2 separate regions of the Homo sapiens genome follow, and region 2 is linked to region 1. Evidence: fine-mapped expression QTL. Tissue or cell type: whole blood. Region 1 holds a variant in brackets; the other region holds the start of a gene. All regions are shown on one strand. Distances are from middle to middle.

Region 1 (2,757 bases):
TTCTATGCACAGGATAGGGGCAGAGTGGGCCATAGGTAGTTTAGGGAAAGGCAGCATTCACATGGGAAAACAGGGATAGAAGTTCTCACTTTGGACCACGGGTTTCAGGCTTTTTGGCTTGAGGGTGAGATTTCGTCAGGGACCACACTTTTCTGCCTAGAATTTCTCTGCCCCCGTCCCTATCATGCATATAAATGGCATTCTCGATGCCAAGATTATACCTATGTTCACTTATATTAGGATTGTCGTGCAACCACCAGAAGCATGACTGACATCAATAGAGGGAAATAAGGCATTGTAACCTAACCAGATAGAAATATGACTAAATTGAAGTATTTCCACTTTTTAAATAATAACTTTATTTAATTTTTAATAACTGAAAAGATGGGAAAGAAGCAAAATATCAGACTCATCAAGAAATGATTCCACAGATCCTTATCTGGCAGCTCAGAATAATTGAGTGACTTGGCCAAGGTCATGGTATTAATGGATGAAAGGGATTTGAACCATGACCACCTGGCATCAGAGTCTAAACTCTACATCATTTAACTTCTCTGAAAAACTAAGTCCCTTATTCTATCCCCACACCCTGTAGTTCATCCTTACTCTATTCATGGCTTTTAAGAGCTGAAGCCCAAGCGCTAGAGCCCAGAGCTAAAAGAGCACTGTAACAAGCCCTCTGGGGCTCCAGGTGTCACAGGCACCCCCACCTGGATGCTGCTTAATCGCCTAGATGCTTACTCTGGCCGGAGAAACTTTGACTTCACCTGTGGATGTCAAGCTCCTGCAGGTTCTTAGGAGCGTTCTGGTTGTTGGCAAGATTGCCTTCCTTTGGGCTTTTTGAGTTGCCGGCTTTGGTGGTGAACCAGTGCATTGGCTCCTGACTGCTACTTACTTTTCAGGGCTTAGTGAAAAATGACAATGTGGGGTCCCTTTTGCAAAAACCAAGAGAAAGGATTTTTCTTTCTCCCCCTCACGGTTTCTCTCTTGCCCCTTCCTGGTGCTTGTAATTTGCTATGTAATGCCACACGCCCACCGGCACAATACTGCAAGGTGAGTGCAGATCCTCAGAAGCAAGGGGTTGGCGTGGGGGGCAGGGGGTGAGCATGCGCATGAGACCACCAGGGCCTGCACTGGGGCAGGGGGTGGTTGCAGTGGGGGAACCTGGAACTGGGTGGGTGGATGGTGGGGGAACCCGGGACTGGGTGGTCGGGGGGAGCCTGGGACTGGGTGGGGGGTGGGAGGGGAGCCTGGGGCTGCATGGGTAGGTGGTAGGGGAGTCTGAGAGTGGGTGGGTAGGTGGTGGGGGAGTCTGGGACTGGGTGGGTGGGTGGGAAGGGAGCCTGGGGCTGGGTGGGCGGTGGTGGGGGAGCCTGGGACTGGGTGGGTGGATGGTGGGGGAGAGCCTGGGACTGGGTGGGTGGGTGGGGGGGTGGAAGGGGAGCCTGCAGCCAGGGCCAGGAAAGGCAGGGGGGTGGAAGGGGAGCCTGCAGCCAGGGCCAGGAAAGGCAGGGAGGTGGCGGGAGGCTCCAAGGTCCCAGCTTCTGCTCCATCATCCCATTAGGACTTCACTTAAAAGACACCATGTATTCAAAGATAAATCAGAATTCCAAGACGGTGGCTGCAGACATTGGGAGTG[C/T]GGGGCCCCCTTCTGGGCTCAGAGGCTGTGTGCCAGCACTAGTCGCAGGCCTATGCAGCCGGCCCTGCCCCAGCTCCTCTTTCTCCATTGCAGTGCCTCCTCCTTGAGCTCCAGTCGGCCTGCATTGGGCCGTAATTAACTTTTTTCTTCCTCCCCTCCTAACCACCCCAGCCCACAGCCCACAGCCCACTACCCACAACCACTGAGCTGGCTGAGATAAGCACAAACAGCCACAAGGAAAGCCAAGAGGCCCTTCTGTGTGAGGCCGACTAGAGTCCCAGAGTGCATTCCACTTAATTACCGGGAGAAATTCTCTAGAACTGCTTTGGATACTATTCCTAGAACCAATTAGCCCGAACCTTTCATTTACATGCAACTCGAAGATGCAAAAACAAATAACTATGGTACTGTATTTTAACAGCTTAAACAGCTCTGTTTGTTTAGCTAAAACAGATGAATAGCTTTCCAAAAATACACAGAAGAGCACTTCCGGCCTGATGAATGCATAACAATGACAGCTGCGAAGTCACAAAGGAAGTACCATTTAGGTGGCATTTGCTAACAAGTTGTATTTTAGGAGAGAAAGGAAAAAGTTAACATAATTAAAGTCAAAGCCAAAGTAGAAACCTTTTCCCATCTACTCGATTTTATAAATTAACAACTTGATTAGCAGTTTGAAATATGATCTGGTTGCCATCAGCCAGGAGCAGGGTAGAGCATTTCATAAGGGAAGGCTCCATCTCAGAGGACTTTTTTGACTTTACATTTAAATAGAAATTATATACATGACATTATTCTATAATTGTGTGACTATAACATTTGCTTTTGCTTTCATAAAGATATATGTTAACAATGGGATACAGGCCGGGCATAGTGGCTCACACTTGTAATCCCAGCACTTTGGGAGGCCAAGGCGGGTGGATCACATGAGGCCAGGAGTTCAAGACCAGCCTGGACAACATGGCAAAACCCCATCTCTACTAAAAATACAAAAAAAAAAAAAAAAAAATTAGTCGGGCATGGTGGCGCATGCCTGTAGTCCCAGCTACTAGAGAGGCTGAGGTGGAGGTTGCAGTGAGCTGAAATTACATCACTGCACTCCTGAGATCACGTCACTG
Region 2 (2,619 bases), 35 kb after region 1:
GGGAAAACGCGTCGGGTAGGAAAGGAGACTGGGTTCGCGCCCCAGCTCTGCCCACCGGATTCCTGAGTGACAGACGCCCGCCGTCCCTCGGCCACCCGTGTCAAATGCGACAGCCAAACTCAGTGCTCAGAGCGCCTTCCCGCCATATCCCCGGGTCACTCCATCTTCCTCTGTCCAAGACAAAGGCCCCGGAGAGCGCAGATGCCCTCGGGGCAGGTGCTGTGGCTTCCCCGAGCTGGCACCGAGGTCACTTGGGCGCGTGGTACCTGCACCCCGGAGCCCCTGCCCCGTGGGGCACCAAAGGGAGAGGGAGCCCCAGCCAGTGGCCTGCAACCCGGAGCGGGCCAGGCGCGGGGGAGAACGCCTGTTCTGGCCCCCAGTGAAGCTTCCCCCTGCCCAGGCTCTCGTCTCGCTCAGCACCTGGGTCGTCTGCCCCAGGGCCGCAGCCCCCTGCGCAGCACGAGACACCCCGCAGTAGCCCCGGGAACCCTCAGCTTCGCCCCCATCCCCCACCTCCATTCCAGCCCCTCGTGACCCAAGGAAGTTCACGGCCCCCTCCTTCCGGCTTGGTCCAGGCTTGGAGGACTCCAGCTCCCAGGCTCAGGCGGCCCTCCCACCTCTCCCGGAGAATGGGGTGACAGGGGAAGACCAGGAGAGGGGGCGACAGGAAGGGCGATGCCGGGTGAAGCATGGGCGAGGGTCGGAAGCCAGGACATTAGGGGGCAGGGGGACTTGGTGGGGCGCTGGGGAGCTCTCTGGGTCTCGGAAGTCCCTTTTGCGAGCTGAGCGACCACTCTCAAAGCTCTCCGGCTCTCTCTGCCTCAGTCTCCCCATCTGGAAGTGAGGTCGTTGAACTCAGTGATCCCCGCGGTCTCTGCCCGACGGAGCGGGGTGGGTGGGGTCGGCTGGGGGTCGGCGCGGGGGCCCGCTCACCTGCCAGGGCGGCGCCGCAGGTGGTGATGAGCACCGCCGCCAGCACCCCTGGCGAGGGCGCGCCGTTCTTGAGCACCAGGACGCCGATGAGCATGGTGACCAGGGGCAGGCAGCGCTTGAAGACCACGTACATGGGCAGGCTGAGGCCGCGCAGGGACCAGAGCGTGAGGCTGGACTGCAGCGTGGAGAGCACCGCGACCCCCGCGAAGGAGCGCGCCAGGCTCAGACCGAAGGGGGGCACGGCGATGAGCCCGAGGCGCCGCAGCAGCTCCAGGCTCAGCGCCGCGGTGGAGCTGGTCAGGCACTGCACCAGGGTCAGGAAGGAGAACTGGTAGCGGCTGATGAGGAACTTGAGCAAGATGTTGAGGGAGCCCGAGAAGACCCCGTGCGCGATGGCCACCGAGATGCCCAGCACGCGGCCCCGGCACAGCTGCCGCATCGCGCCGGCCTCGCCGCACCCAGCGGTGGCGGAGCTCCGCGACCTGCGCGCGAGGAGCCGGGAGCAGCGGAGTGAGGGCGGCGGGGGCGCCCGCCCAGCGCGGCGGCGAAGGGCAGGGGGCGCCGGCTCGGCTGCAGAGGGCAGCTCCGGCCAGGCGTTCTTGCGGTTAGGCAGCTCTGCGTCCGACTGCCCCGCAGCTCCGGGGAGGCAGTGACGAGGGCGGGGGACTCCGAAAAGTGGCAGAGGTGGCGGGGGGGCCGGTCTGAGAGGAGTGGCGGGAATCCTAGCGACAGCTATTTGTAAGTGGGTGATGAGCCGCGGTGGGTTGTGTCCCGCGCGGTTTCACCGTCAGGGAAGACGCTCTGCGGAGGGAAGCGGGCGGCTGGGCGCCCCGGGGCGGCTGCCGCAGGGCGGGACGGGGGCTCTTGGGGCGCGGCGCCCCTCTCCCCCCACAGAGCCAGCGGCTCTCGCTTGCCCCTTCCTCCTGGCCGAGGGGCTTGGGTTGGAGGGATCGGGACACAGCTAAAGATTTTAGAAACAGCGCATCAGGATCGAGCGCCGTTTATTGGTCGCAACAAGTGACGGCGCCCCCAGCCCCCTCGCCCCGGCGCTGCAGCGGCTTTTTCCACCCACTGTCCCTCCCGGTGCAGCGGCGGGACCTCGTCCAGCTGCCCGCCAGGGAAGCGAAAACCGTCGGTGCCGGCGGGCCCCCGAAGCTCCCGATCCCGGCGACGACGCCCGGGCATCGGAGGAGGAACCCGCGGCCCGGGGCGCTGTCCAGGGGGTGCCTCGGAGCCCGGAAGCTGGCTCCTTCCGGTGCCAGGCCACGCGCACCGCTCTCCGCACGCCTTCCAGAGAGGGTCCCGGGATTATGCGCGCGGCTCCGGGGAAGCTTTCAGGGGGTTCAGTGGTCTCGCCCAGCAGCGGGGCCTGGTGGCGGGGACACATTCGAACTGAGGCAAAGATGAAAATAAGCAAACGCGCAGAAACGAAGTCACTAACACGAGTAGCCACCACCAGGAACCGAGGAGCTCGGGGGCGACGCTTCCCGAAGCGTGGGAGGGGAGGCTGGCTGCGCTCGCAGAATGGGAGAGTAGAGGGGGAGGGGGCGGGAACCCGGGGCCCCTCACCCTGCAGGGAGACTCCGCGTGGCGTTCTCCGGATCCCAGGGAACTGATCCCAGGGAACCCTCACCCTGCGGGACCGTCGTGGGTTGCTTTCGGAAGCAGGACAACCGGCAGGCGGAG

The links. PIP is the estimated chance that this variant, and not a neighbour inherited with it, causes the effect.
Region 2: it holds the start of SLC35D3, and the variant in region 1 is fine-mapped to the expression of SLC35D3 in whole blood (INTERVAL, PIP above 0.99).

What each region holds. Positions count from the first base shown.
Region 1 is chr6:136,956,373-136,959,129 of GRCh38, reverse strand. No RefSeq gene overlaps it. Among named protein-coding and RNA genes, the nearest start is that of SLC35D3, 35 kb to the right of the region's middle. RefSeq lists enhancers at 301-867, 2,004-2,572 and a silencer at 1,545-1,839. The variant C/T (reference allele first, on the strand shown) is at 1,640.
Region 2 is chr6:136,921,182-136,923,800 of GRCh38, reverse strand. It overlaps SLC35D3 (solute carrier family 35 member D3), which reads right to left and starts at 1,500. Exons shown (of 2, transcript NM_001008783.3): 1 at 934-1,500. The coding sequence starts at 1,372. RefSeq lists an enhancer at 1,972-2,478.